Linked DNA regions of Homo sapiens. The protein of the gene in region 1 binds, or shares a complex with, the protein of each later gene. Each region holds a gene or a part of one and is shown on either strand. Other genes may lie near its edges.

What was found.
Region 2: the proteins of SCN7A (region 1) and SCN3B are in contact, whole or in part, in a cryo-EM structure (PDB 7TJ9), measured with the Homo sapiens proteins. Residues at the interface, in NP_002967.2 of Homo sapiens: Arg269, Glu293, Tyr296, Leu298, Glu299, Leu305, Gln315, Cys316, Pro317, Glu318, Gly319, Tyr320, Asn922, Ile923, Thr926, Cys927, Lys929, Ile930, Phe939, Ile956, Tyr957, Asp959, Gln960, Ile966, Tyr970, Met973, Ile974, Tyr977, Ile978, Leu981; in NP_001035241.1 of Homo sapiens: Val25, Cys26, Val27, Glu28, Val29, Arg44, Ile46, Lys50, Arg51, Glu52, Glu53, Val54, Asn95, Gly96, Ser97, Asp99, Gln101, Asp102, Phe126, Phe128, Ala130, His131, Pro133, Val135, Thr154, Ser155, Ser158, Glu159, Met162, Leu165.

The regions. Positions count from the first base shown.
Region 1 is NC_000002.12:166,491,242-166,498,439, reverse strand, and holds the start of SCN7A (sodium channel protein type 7 subunit alpha), read left to right. Parts: upstream 1-4,190; 5' UTR 4,191-4,472; intron 4,473-4,583; exon of another isoform or gene 4,584-4,718; intron 4,719-7,198. UniProt on the Homo sapiens protein: Sodium leak channel functioning as an osmosensor regulating sodium ion levels in various tissues and organs. While most sodium channels are voltage-gated, SCN7A is not and lets sodium flow through membrane along its concentration gradient.
Region 2 is NC_000011.10:123,651,619-123,659,062, reverse strand, and holds the start of SCN3B (sodium channel regulatory subunit beta-3 precursor), read left to right. Parts: upstream 1-4,438; 5' UTR 4,439-4,837; exon of another isoform or gene 4,838-5,236; 5' UTR 5,237-5,261; coding exon 5,262-5,316; exon of another isoform or gene 5,317-5,378; intron 5,379-7,444. UniProt on the Homo sapiens protein: Regulatory subunit of multiple voltage-gated sodium (Nav) channels directly mediating the depolarization of excitable membranes.

The sequences.
Region 1 (7,198 bases):
AAAGATAACCTGCATTTGCAAAAGAATATATGAAGTATTAAGAATCATAAAAGGCCAGGCATGTGGCTCACGCCTGTAATCCCAGCAGTTTGGGAGGCCGAGGAGGGTGGATCACTTGAGGTGAGGAGTTCAAGACCAGCCTGGTCAACATGGTGAAACCCCGTCTCTACTAAAAATACAAAAATTAGCCAGGCATGGTGGCACACGCCTGTAATCCCAGCTACTTGGGAGGCTGAGGCAGGAGAATTGCTTGAACCTGGGAGATGGAGGTTGCAGTGAGCTGAGATCGCACTACTGCAGTCCAGCCTCGGTGACAGAGCCAGACTCTGTCTCAAAAAATAAAATAAAATAAAATAAAAAATCATAAAATTCAAATGATTCAGAAGACAGGATTCTACAATATGATTCACATTATATTCATCTTTCAATAAATCTAGGCTTGCATTGTGACAGCGAACCAAAATGAGTCTCTATTTTATATTATCCTATAATAAGGCTGTGGGAAGTATCCATTCACACTCTTGACACTGATGTGTTTGAGGTAAGAATAAACAACCCTTATTTAAATGGGCTAAAAGGAAAGTAAAGTCTCCCAGGGCCTATCTGGTTCAAGTGCAGTGTGATAGAGGAGGTTTCTCTCTTGACAAGGCAGAACATCTGGGTCTAGATCTTCTACCTTCTGAATGCATTCCAAGAAGCACAGCTCCCTTTTTTGCATTTTATTTTATTTTACTTTATGGTAAATTAATAAATAATTGTATATTTATGGGGTACACTGTAATGCTTTGATTTGTATATACATTGTAAAAAATTGAATCAAGCTAATTAACATATCCATTGTCTCACCAGCTTATCCTTTTTTTGTAGTATGTTAAAAAATCTATTCTTTAAGCAATTTTCAGATATACAATGTTATTTTTAGCTGTAGTCACCATGCAATGCAACAGATCACTAAAATGTATTCATCCATTCTGAGACTTTGTACTCTTTGATCAACATTTTCTATTTCCTTCTCCCTCCCCTTCCCAACCTCTAGAGACGACATTTCTACTCTGTTTATATGAGATTGACTTTTTTAGTTCCACATATAAGTGAGATCATGTGGCATTTATCATTTGGTGCCTGGATTATTTAATTTAACGTAATGTACACCAGTACCACCTCGTCTTGAATGACAGAATTTCCTTCTTTGTAAAGGCTGTGTGGTACTTAATTTTGTATATATACCACATTTCTTTACCTAGTTATCCAGCAATAAACATTTAGGTTGCTTCCATATCTTGGCTACTGTGAATAATGCTGAATTAAAGTAGGACTGCAACTATCCTTTTGACATAGAAATTTAAATTCCTTTGGATATATACCCAGGAGTGGGATTGCTAGATCATATGGTAATTCTATTTTTAGTTTTTTGAGTTTACTATTTTCCAAAATGGCTGTACTAATTTACATTCCCACCAGCACTGTACAGGGTTCTCTTTTCTCCACATCCTCACCCACACTTGTTATCATTCATCTTTTTGATAATGTCAGAATGAGATATCACCTCACACATGTTAGAATGGCTATTATCAAAAATAGCTTAGGTTTGAGGCTGAGTGCTTTATTTCTCTGCATCCCTTGGTATTCCCCATAGACATGACTGGACTTTCTTATTACCATTTCTTTTCAGGCAGGCTCATGCTTTATATCAAGATTCTGAAACCAGAGGAAATTCTCACACCTGTATATTATAGAAGCTTTAAAGCATCCAAGCACCAGGTTTTAAGAATGAAACAGATCAACAAACAATTCTCATGTTCTTTAGATTGCATGTGATCTATGGTCTATTCCTATAGTGAATCTCCACATTTTCCCACAAAGCATAGAGTGGATTAGGTATGAATAATGCTCAATACTTTAGCAAATATACTGGGTACCTACTCTATTACATCCTCTCTTACAAGTGCTATTGTAGAGCAGGAAATAAATAAGTCTCAGCTGTCATGCAGAAAGCAGTCTAGTGGAACAAGACAGAAAATAAACATATAAGCAATAGCTATTTCACAGGCCAGATAAGCACTAAGAAGAAATACAAAGCAGTTGCTAACTACAATAGGATTCAAATTGTGAAAGTGGGAATTGATAGCAGAGATGATTTGGAGAAGAAGATAATCCATTAAGGATGAAATCAGAAGTTAGGCTGTTGGATGCTTCATCCAAATAGTTGTTGGTATTCAAATGGATGAGAAAGTTTTTAAGAAGGAAAGCAAGAGTTTGAATGGAGGGAAAGACTGTCAACCACAGAATAAATTCTTAATAAATAAGAGTGTCCATAAAGGCAGAACATAATGGCTACCATGTAGCCAGGTAGAAAAAGATGATGAAACTGGAGAACATATCTCCAAAGAAAGAGTTTTGGGTTTGTTTGAGTGTGTTTTGGGAGAGTTGTTTGCTTGTCTTTTTATACAGGGTTTTGTCAACTCTGGATGTAGAGACTTTTTTGAGAATTAAAACATCGAGTCCATCCACACTTCTGACACTGACATCTCTGAGGTCACAATAAACAGCTCCCATTTAAACAGACTGAAAGGAAGCTAATGCCCACAGTGGCGTATCGAGTTCAAGTGTAGTGTGATACAGCCAGCTTCTCTCCTGACACAGAAGAGTATGTGGGGTCTAGAGCTCCCACCTACTGAATACATACTTAGAAAGTAGAGTTTAGAAATATGCTTATAAAGTTCTTAAGGCAGAAATGTTGAAAACAGACCCTCCACTATGTAGTTCCTCCTGCTGAGAAACTCAGTGGGGGAGGAAGGATCCTCAGCTCATTATTAGGGGCACGATAATTGCCAAAACTTTTCAGATCCAACCTGGTAATATTACATAACCGTTATATAACCGTAGTGCCAAATATTTGTCCCAAAACAAATATTTGTTCCAAAACAAGAAAATGGCTAGCTAACTCAGAATATAAAACCAACACCATTAGTTTCCCATCTATTTGCCTCTCATTTATGTGATTGGTTTGTACAATATCTTGGGATCAACTGCCTGTTCATTACACATTATAAAAAGCAGTACTTCTTTTTATTTATTTTAAATATCACATGGAAACTTTGAAATATTTGATATTAAGTTCATTAAATTTATATTGTGTTTGAATGTACAGAAAGGTGTGTAGAATTTTACTGGGTGAAAAGGGATATATGTGTCAGACTGCTCTAAGGGAAGGTTTTATGCTCTAGAAAATTCATTTGCATCATCACCAGAGTGTGGAGAAGAGAAGCCTGCAGTCAGTCAATTGTCCATTATAAAGAAATCAAGTGAATGTTTGATGCTACAAAATAATTATTGCTAATTATAGATGTGATCAGGGTATTGAGTTAAAATCTTAAGTTCTTACCATTCAGAGACATATGCTGATATATTTTTGAAGTAAGTGATGTGATGTGTGCATAAAATAGGGTTACAAAATGAAGGTTCTATGGTGTGGCCTTTGGGAAGAAGGTGCAACCCCTCTGGCCTTCACTCCCAAACTACACTGTATTGCCGCAGTTTTCTAAAATAAACATAATTTTTCCTCTGTCCCTCGTGTTTCAAATCACTAGAGTGGGAAACTGATCCAGAGTAAAAGCCAGCTCCAGCTGACTCTTGACTCTCCTAAAAACAGCTACACACATACTCACACAACAACAGGATTACAAACTCTTAATTACAGCAATGTCCAGATTTGAATGCTGCAGGCTGACAATTGCCCCTCTAAGTTCTGCTGGGGCACCTAGGCAAGGGGAGAGAGAATACAACTGGAGGTTAAAGAACCAGAGTTTTCTGTCTTCCTCTCCTCTCCCTCATTTTCACTCTCCCTTCCCCCTCAGCTGCACCGCGCTGCTCCTTTTCCTCTCCTCCTTGGATGTTCCCTAGCCCCTTCATTCCTTCACGCTCTGCAGGCCCTCTCCCCTCTACCCCTCCTCATCAGCCCCCCGCTCCTCTTCCTCCCTCCCTTCCCGGCAGCTGCTGGAGGAGACGCCACAGCTGCTGCTGTTACTGCATCTGCAGCAGGTCTCTGTCAATATCACCCGCCCACGCCCGATCTGGATGCTGAAGTCGCTCACTGGCCTGGAGATTAGGGCGGGGGAGAGAGTGGAGTGGCTGGGAGAGGGGAGGGAGGAGTGGAAAGGAGACAAAAACAGCTTCCAAGCAGCGGGCGCGGCTCCACTGGACATCTGGGTAGGAGGGGTCTCTGGGTCAGTGGCTGGAGAGTCGCCCCAGTGAGTCGGTGTCTAACTGGCCATTTAGTGGGGCCCATTTACTGCAGAGCCACAGCTGGTGAGGACAGACGCCAGCCTAACAGCAGCTTCTGTACAACTAGAGCTCAGAAAACCCGAGAGATCCGTGGAGAAAGAGAAGCCCAGGAGGAGGAAAGGGCTCCAAGGAGCCCTGCTCCTGAAGGGTCCCTCAGGCACTGGTGGAGACCTGTCGCTTCGTAGCAAGTAAGTGCCTTTTTCTTGCTGCTGTGTCCAGTCCCAGAATGGTGATAGCCGCTATCCGCTGCCAGCCTTTCCCATCCACTCCCACCTGCCCCATCCCATACACACCCTTAGGGTCCCCAGCAGGAGGACAGAGATTTGAAATTGTGGACGTGCATTAGGAGAGTTACTTCAAGAGTATACTTCAAGAGCAGCCGTGGTCTGTGGGTGTTTGCATGGCATGTGCCGTCAGTTTTCTAATTCCATCAGGTAAGCTTCTGAAACCAACATTCTCTGTTAGTGTAAAATTCTAGAAACCCTATATGACAATGACTTACATTACATGGTACAATGATAGTATAAAATGGAGGAAAGGTTATGCAGATTGTTGTACACTTCTTCTAAGAATCCTATCTCTTATTCTAAATAACAGAGATTTCAAGATTGATTTTCCCAAAGGAATAGATAGTATAAAAGTAGAGGCATTGATGTGATTGGCAGTGGTGTGCTCAGTTTAGTCAGTTGGGCATTTTGGTATTGACTAGATCAACAGAGATTGTTGTTGTTGTTTTTGCATTGTTTTGCTCTATAAAATGCATCTCTTCTGGAGGTTTTCTTTTAGAAGTGATAGTGTGACTGGTTGTGTTAGCTTCAAAACTTAGAACATTGGTCAAAACAAGACAAATGATGAGTGCATGTGGAATGACACACCGATGGGCCCCTTTCATTAACGAAAATGATGGGTTCCAGTTTGGATATTGGACTGAAAAATATCTTGAAATGGGAAAGAGTTTGGGTGGTGCTTCTTGTGGATACTTTACCCCACTGCTGTTCATTCAGGAGAGCAATTTATGGCAAAGTAGAAGGAAAGTGGGCCCTGTAATAAACAGAATCCTGGGCACCATACCTGCTATGACTAGCCTTAATTAAAGATTCTATAATCCAGCTGCTGTTTTTACAAGTAAGACCTATAAGGAGTAATTTGCTGAGGCTACCTGGCAAATCAGTAATTGAGCGGGAAGTCCAATGAACAAGTCTTTGGGATTTAGAACTACAAAACTTGATTTCAATTTTTGTACAAATTAAGCCAATTATTTAACTTGAGTAAGCTTTATTTTCTTTATTTATAAATGACACTCCAAAAAGTCCTGACAAAAACTAATTGACAGAGATGATATAAAGGGTTTATGAAAGTACCATATGTGTAACTGTTGATTACATAAGGGATTATTCTGTGTTTTTATCTACTTCACTATTCTGATTTTCCTTCTAAGTCTGATTCAATATAAGCATACAGAGGGCTTTGACATGCATCTCTAGAATGCACTAGAGGAAGTGAAATTCAAATCCTTTTCTTGCCACCTGTACAGTTTAAAGCATATTCTAATCTGAAAGCCTTTATCCTCAAAAAAGTGAAAAGTGTGTGCTTTGGCTAGCTTTGCATATTTAAACCTTGTAATATTCTCCAAATATGCTTTACCCTCTTTCTGTTTTTAGTTTTAAAATTGATTTTAGGTCTGTAGTCCTGTTTCCTGGGGATGAAGCCATCACGTATATTGGATATTGCTGAATGTATTTGGCCCGTTACTTAACATAGGAGAAATCAAAATTTAGGCATAAATACTCTAATCTTGACTGCAAAGATTCATTAAAATCTTGCACCTGGGGGATAGGTACTGTGAGTCCCTTCTTTCCCATGGATATGTTTAAAGTAATAGAAGAAAGAACTCAATTTGTACATGGGCTCAGGAAAAGGGGTCATCAGATCCCAGATGGCACACGACCGTTGGACCTGCTGCTGCATATCAGTCTCTACTGGAGTACTGGAGGCAGAGCCAAGCACTTCAAAACTGGGCATTCTGTCTCCGTAGCCTCGTGTGGTAGATGGTTTGGTAGCGGATATACACTCTCACTGATTTTCCCAAAGTAGGATAAATACCTGTCCAAAGCATACTAGAAATAAAAATAACAGTATTTTCCCCAATCCCTTACTCAGGGATTGGGAAATCTGCACTCCAGCCCTAGATCTCATTGGGTTGAGATACGTGTCACAACTGGGGTATTCAGAGATTGACTCACCATCTACCTACTGCCTTAGACTCCCTCCTGAAAGCTTATGGTGGAGGCATTGGGTAAAAGGGACATTCTTGATTTCTGGGAGTCTGATCCCATTATTTCCACTAACCATTTTCAGTATTTGTCAGTGTGAGAAGAACATCTATAACCTCTGCCCACCCCCACCCCCACTCCAGATATCAGCAATGCACAGTCACCCATTATCACATGAGAAAATCTTGTACAAACAGATGTCACTTTTCTTTTCCTGCGTTGGTTCCTTCTCTTCTGTTAGTGAGGACTAACCAACCAGACAAGTGAGGTCTCATTGCAGCAACATTGAAAGAAGGAGCCTTTGAAGTTAAAGATAAGATTTCATCTGAGGGCTTCAGAGGTTATTTTTGAGTTGGTGCATATCTCTTGACCCAGCTAAGATTATTATTTTACATTCATTTGTTCAATTATTGTTTATTACAAATGAGGCGCCATCTTCTTATATTCCATCCTGAAATTCCTAGCAAACAGATATCCCTGTTGTCTCTGCAGTATTTATAATTGGATTGACTCAGCCTGGTGCTGGACAAGGATAACCAGCTCAATGGACGGCTCTGATGATGGTGTGGGTCAGGTGCCACACTGACTGCCTAGACATCAAAGAGCTTGATAGAAATGCAGAAGCTGGGGCCCCACTCATG
Region 2 (7,444 bases), on another chromosome or scaffold:
CCACTGCTCCTGTCTCTAATTCCTCCCCAGTAGTCTCAGTGAATGTGTTTCATTCCACAAGAAAACTAACATCTCCCTGAATAGCTCCCATTCAATTCTTTCTTCAGCAGAGTCATGTCATTCCCTCCACCTCAAGATCCCTGAATATCTAGGCTCTGTACTCCATCCTCTTCCTCAATCTCTGAGCATAATTAGCTAAAGTCCCCTCAAAGGAGAAGTGTCCTTAAGTCTAAAGACCCTCTTTTCCCTGGCCTGCCATGGCATTGCACCTTGCTGGGTCTCTTCCTATTTCTCTGACTCTTGGTTTTCTGTTCCCCTATTGATTCTGGCCTCAGCTCTTCACTGTTTCCACACTATTCTCACTCCCTTGTGTATTCATTCACTTGTGTCCTCTGTGAAGAGGACCTAATATCTGCTTGGCACTGATCTAGGTGCAGGACGGCAGCAGTAGACAGAACAAACAAGGCTGCTATCTATCACCAAGGAGAACCAGCCTGATGGGAGGAACAGAAAATAAGCAAGTACATATATTAAAAATAAGATAATTTTGGATAGTGAGAGAAGATATGAAGAACAAGAAACAGGGTGATGAGATAGAGAGTAGCTTCAGGTGAGGAAGGTAGCAGGAAACAAGCTTAGAGTGACCAGGGAATGTCACTCTAGGGTGAAGTCATTTGAGGCAAGACCAAAATGACAAGAAACCAGCCATAGAATGAAGAATGTTCCAGGAAGAGGGGACATCAAATGCTAAGGCTATAATAATAATGATGGGAAATATTAATAGTGGGGAAGAGTTTGATAACTATGAGGTACATTTCTTTAAAATTAAGTGTAATTGGAACATGGTGGACAAGACAGAGAGTGGTAGAAATGAGTGTGGAGAGATAGCCAGGGCACAAGGCCAACATTAGGCCATGGTGACAAGTCTAGATTTTATTTCAGTGTAGTGAGATGCCATGGAAGGGCTTTAAGCAAGAGAAGTTCCCATCTTTTAGAATACAAAGACTGTTCTGTCTACTCTTTGGAGAATAGAGCATATGGTTTCACCCATTAACTGTGAAGGGAGAATGATTATTAAATTGGGAGGCCAAGTCAACAACAATGAGAAAGGATTGAAGCCAAAATGGCAGAAAAGAGGAAGGGAGAGCTTAATTTAAATGATTTTAAAACTCTCAGAACAAGGCCAAGAGTACTTCAGGGAACTTAAGGTACTTGCAAAAGTGACTGAGAGTGACAGCCAAAAATCAAGGGAAACAGCAGGAGAATGAAAAGACTAAATGCTCCTATTTTCAATACAGGAGAGGGAAGAAGTGGTATATGAAAAATAGAGGTGAAATCCTGACAGTGACTATTTACAATGGGGTTGATAAACAATTAGAAAACAACATTATGAATATTAGCAATTCACATGAATAGACATAAGAAAAATTTTGTAAAGCTGAGCCAATTCCTGCTGTGGTAGTTGATAAAATTATCAGACTGAAAATATTTCAGTCTGTCTGTGTATTTCAGTCTTGGTAAGGCTTTCAATAAAGTCATAGAACCTCAAAGACGATAGGAACTTTAACATAATCTATTCCAAATTTCTAACCTTTACAGGTTTTCCTTCCTAAACATCCCAGCAGTTGTTTGGATAACAACTGCTTGGATGTAACGAAAGGTAATTTGTCCTACTTTGGAAAGGTTTGAAATGTATTGCTGAAAATCTGTTTTTGTGTTAGTGTAAGCCATTGATCCTATTTCTTTCCTGTGGATGACTAGATGTCTAATTCCTCTCACAGATTCCTTTTATTCTAAATTTTCAGAATGTCTCATGCTGTACATATAAAAAATAGGGAGCTATGTTTGGGTTTTATGATTGAGCAACTGTTCTAAAGAATTTTAATTAGGCCAGGTGCAGTGGCTCATGCCTGTAATCCCAGTGCTTTGGGAGGCCAAGGCGGGCAGATCACCTGAGGTCAGGAGTTTGAGATCAGCCTGGCCAACACGGTGAAACCCCCTCTCTACTAAAAATTCAAAAATTAGCTGGGTGTGGTAGTGGGCACCTGTAATCCCAGCTACTTGGGAGGCTGAGGCGGAATGATTGCTTGAACCTGGGAGGTGGAGGTTTCAGCGAGCCGAGGTCACACTACTGCACTCCAGCGTGGGCAACAAGAGTGAAACTCCGTCTCAAAAAACAAACAAACAAACAAAAATGTTAATTAGTAGCTCATTGTCAAGGTAGAATGAGGTCTTTAGAAGCAGGCCATAGGACTATCTCTTCTTTTTTTCTATTGGTTCTTTTTTTAAATATCCATGTGTGGATCATGTGATTGTCAAGCCTAGAGATGAAACAAGGGTAAAGAAGAGAGATATATTGGGTGATTGAATCTGAATTCAATAAAAGTATTAACACAGTGTGATAACTGGTTGAAACTAATAAATTTTAACAGCAATAAGTGCAAAGTTTCATAATAAAATTTCCAAAATTGCCTGTACAAGACACAATGACTCTGCAACAAGTCAAGTGAAGAATACTCAGGGATTTTAATTGAACATAAGCTGATTATGACTAAGATGTGGCTGTAAATGTATTTAACTAGTTATATCCTTCAAAGCAAATGTAGCCATAATTCCACTGGATTTATGCTGGTCAGACCACACAGGGACCATCAGTTCCTGTTCTGGACGTCACTTGGAGAATCATGCTGAGAAACTGAAAGTCCTTCTGAAAAAGCAGCCAGGGTGGTACAGGATTGGAAACTACTAGAAAATACATTGGAAGAAACTAAGGAAGAGTAGCCACAAACAAAAATGTCTTAGGGCGGATGTGAGGAAGCATAGCTCTTTTAAAGAGAAAACAGCATTAGGGCCACTTAATGGAGTTTGGAGGGGGAGGAGGAGTGTACGGAATTCAACTGAACATAAAGAACTTCCTTAAGCATCAGAAGAGGTGAACTTGTGATGTAGAAAGTTCTCATCACTAAAAAGATCAAGGCCAGGCGCGGTGGCTCATGCCTGTAATCCCAGCACTTTGGGAGGCCGAGGCGGGTGGATCTCCTGAGGTTGTGAGTTTGAGACCATCCTGACCAACATGGAGAAACCCCATCTCTACTAAAAATACAAAATTAGCCGGGTGTAGCAGCGTATGCCTGTAATCCCAGCTACTCAGGAGGCTGAGACAGGAGAATCACTTGAACCCGGGGGACGGAGGTTGCGGTGAGCCAAGATCGCGCCATTGCACTCCAGCCTGGGCAAGAAGAGCAAAACCCCGTCTCAATAAATAAATAAATAAATAAATAAATAAATAAATAAATAAAATCAAGTCCATTCGTCCGAAATGTTCTTGGGGGAAGTCACAAATTGGAAAAGCGGTTGAATTAGGTCAACTTTAACTTCCCATCCAAATTTAACACAGTATACATGCTTCAAGGCCTAGTCCTCCAAACAGCACAGAGTTTATGGCCTGGTGGCTCCCTGCCCAGGAAGATCCGACTGGGGACATTCTGTTACTCTGTGAGATGTCAGGAGGGAGCATTTCCTGCTTCTGGTCCACTCACCGTCAGCTGTTGCTCTGTTATTCCATTTTGGAATATCAGCGTTAAGCTTCCCCTTTTGGAAAGAGCAGAAGAGGAGAAAAAGGAAGCTGAAGAAGGGCTCTTGGATTACTCTTTTACTTCAGTTCCAGGCGTTCCTAATCTGTTATGTCAATTTGAGTTTATAGTTGAATGTAAAGTTTCAGGTTTCCCTTCCAGAGATGGGGCGGGGGCACTCAAACAGCTGCTAGGACTAGGGAGTGGCTAATAGTTGGAAGACGCCAAACACAATCTATCTGCTTTATTAAAAAGGAGTAATTAAAGGAAAAGGGAGAACTGCAAAGAACCTGGGGAAGGGAAGAGGAGTCCTCTTGGGCCCCCCTCCCCTTGCGCTGACATTTGGATCACCTCACTGAGTGATGAGGTGAAGACAGGAACAGGTGCGCCTCATCCCTACCCCATTTGCCCTAAACAGGGATTATCTTGCTGAGTTTGCTGTGTCCGGGGCCAATTAATCAAGGCTAGACAAAGGATAGACAGCGAGAACTGGAAGGCATGGGGTCTGGGAGGCGAAGCCAGGAACCGCGTACGGCGCGCCTTGCAGATGACATCATTGCCTGAAAGAGCTCTGGCCCTTCTCTTCCCGGAGCTACACCCGGCAAGTCCGTGCGGGAGCGGAGTGGGTTTGCCTGGAGGGCGTGAGCCGAGGGCGGCGGTGCGCCCGAGCTCGGGGGAGGTGCGGAGGCGCGAGAGGGAGACCTGGAGAGACCAGCGAGCGCGCGAGCAAAGATATCCCGGCTGGAAGTGTCTGCGCCGCTCCCGGCTCCGCCCCCGCTCGGCGCGGCGCTGGGCCTGGGAGGGGCACGCCCATCAGGGGGTGGGGAGTGTGCACTAGGGGGAGGGTCCGGGGCGGTGGTGGTGGCGGAGAGCCGCCTGCGCATGTCAGGGCTGACAGCACACACGGCCTGGGGGCCTAGAGAAGGGTTGCTGATCACCTGCCACCCAGGGTCGGGGCCCCGCACCATCCGGGGGCGAGCTCCCGGGAAGGGGCTCCGCCTCTACACCCACCCCCCAACCTCTGACATCGCCGGCCGAACGGGAGCTGCCGCTTCCTTCCCGGCCCCGCTGCACCTCCCCAGGGAGCCGAGGGCGGGCGTGGACGGGACCGACGTGGAACGCATTCTGTAGCCCAGACGGGCGGCCCCGGCGGCTTCGGGAGTGGGGTCACGCCCAGCTGGAGAAGCAGTTAGGGCGGACGAAGCAGGAGCCGCGGGGCTGGGAGGATTCCAGTCGGAACGCAACCGATCCTGGGGAGGCGAGAGGTGAATCAACCTGGACCCTTCCACAGCCTGGCTGCTAGGCCAGCAGTGCGACTCCCTTCCGAGCTGAGCTTACCCTGGGCGCAAACGAGCGAGGCAGGGGCGCGAGTGGAAGCTGGAGTTCCGGGGTGGGCGGGGAGGCGACTGTCCGTGGTGCTGAGCGCCGGCGAGAGCGGGCGCGGAGCGGCTGATCGGCTCCCTCGAACTGGGGAGGTCCAGTGGGGTCGCTTAGGGCCCAAAGCCCCCACCCGGCTCCAAAAGCTCCCAGGGCCTCCCCAGGCACCGGTGCTCGGCCCTTCCTTCGGTCAGAAAGTCGCCCCCTGGGGGCAGTTCGTCCCAAAGGGTTTCCTCGAAAGAATCTGAGAGGGCGCAGTCCTTGACCGAGGGAATCTCTCTGTGTAGCCTTGGAAGCCGCCAGCCCCAGAAGATGCCTGCCTTCAATAGATTGTTTCCCCTGGCTTCTCTCGTGCTTATCTACTGGGGTAAGTACCAGCACCTCGCCATGCCGGATGCAGGTAACAGTAACAATGCTAACAATAATAACACATTGATGTCGTTGGTGACAGAAAAGAGCTCTGGCTGGCTTGCCTCTGTGCGTATCTGCCAGACATGGAGATGGCAGGGGTTCCATGAGAGCTGGGATTTTGAGATGGGAAAGGCGCCTCCCCACCGCCCTTCCCCGCTATTCTCCAACCTCCTTTGGTGGTTCTTCCGCCCTTCCTCCAGTTTCCTGATCATTCCAAAGTATTTTTTCCCTTTCCCTTTGCTGAAAGGAAATGCAGTCACGTTCACGAATAAAAACCTCCTGTGTGGTTACATTTTATTTCTCATCAAGGAGTCTATACTCCTGGAAAGCTTACTGGGTCTTCAAATTCGTTTCTGTATATTAAAAAAAAAAAAAAACCATAAAAGCTGGATGCATGAATTTTGAGAGTGAAAATACTTTAGTTGCTCATCATCTTCTTAATTTTAACAAGGAATGGGAAGAAAACAGCCTTCAGCCATTTACTGCTATATATTAAATAAATAGGCAACTGTGAAATGCATCTTTCTTTTTCTTCTTCTTCTTTTTTTTTTGGTTTGTTTGTTTGTTGCATGAACCTGTGGAACTAAGATGCTTTGGTGTTAGGGGAGGAGAGCTGGGTTTTTGCCTTCAAAGGTGAATAGATTCTTGCTTGTCAGCTGTGAGAAACTGAGGTGACCTTCCCCCTCCAAATAAGGGAATCTTACACTTGGAACAGTAAAGGCTGAAGAGAGTGTCAGAGACGGTCTTGGAGTGCCTGAATGTGTGTAAAGGGGATTGATCTATGTGATAATGTCTGATTGTGTGATTGAGACAATGTTTTACTGTATGTAAATATATTTCAGTGTCTGGATGTGTGCACTAGCATGTGTGTGAGCATGTTGGCATAGACATCTGAATGCATGGGTGAGTGTAGTAGTATGTGTATGGCAGGGGTGGGGGTGGTAGTTCTGGGCATGTCTGCCTTGGTGTCTATGATTAGATCCTCAGATAAAATATAGGTTCTCTTCAGCAGACAGATTGCTTTACATGATCTTAGCTACCTTTCTCCGTGCAAAAATCAATACACAGGGTAATTGGACACAATTGTACCCACCTGCCTCCCTGAAACGAGGCATGTGAGCTTATGTTCCCATGGTTGGCATGAAACTCATCCTGCCTATACGGTGGCAGACATGCTGATGGGAGCTGCCTCTTTGCTTTAGTATTACTTTTTCAAGCCTCCAGGACTAACTCTAGCTGCCAGCATTATCTGGATTTTGCATGTGACCAGAGGCAGAGCCAAGCTTCCTGTCAAAATGCCTGATGAGACGGACTAGGAAGGTTGAGGAGGGAGGTAATGTCAGCCCCAAAGGCGGACTCATCACCAGCCATCCCCAGTAGAGTAGACCAGACCTGGAGATGGAGCAGCTATAATATGTTGCCAATGATCTCACCTGCCTTGAAGATTAAGGCTGAAATTTTCTCAGGGGAGGCTAAGGCTGAGGACACGAGGCTTAGAAGATGTTAGCCTGGCCAGATAAAAAGAGCGTCGGTAAAGCTGAAGTTGTGGATAAGGGTTGGAGTGAGACTCTGCAGAGACTTTCTTCCTGAACTCTAATCTAAGATTTTGAGATCCCTGCCTGAATTCCAGTGGAGGGAGAGAACATGCTATCATCCAAGAATCTTTTAACTAGAACTTGTGCAACCTGCATTGGAGTCTCAGCTTTGCCACTAGCTTACTATATAACAACCTTAAAGTGCTATCTGGTTCCTTCTGTGTAATGTTTGGAAGTTGGCACGGGTGATATCTAACATCCTTTTCAGCTCCACAGATGAATGGTAGAGAAATCTTTGAAGAATATTGCTAGAATTGACAGAGTGCCCATCCCCTCCCCGACCCCAAAAAACTTTGGAAGAAGTGTACACAGTATGCCCATCTTTGCCCATTCTCAGTTTCTTTGCAAACTGAGTGTTGTCTCACCAAACTGAAAAGCTGTGGAAGGGAAAGAGAAGTGGTTCAGGACACTTGGTTGTTAACTGTAAGAAAAACAGCTTCCCTTCGCCAGGCGCAGTGGCTCACGCCTGTAATCCCAACAATTTGGGAG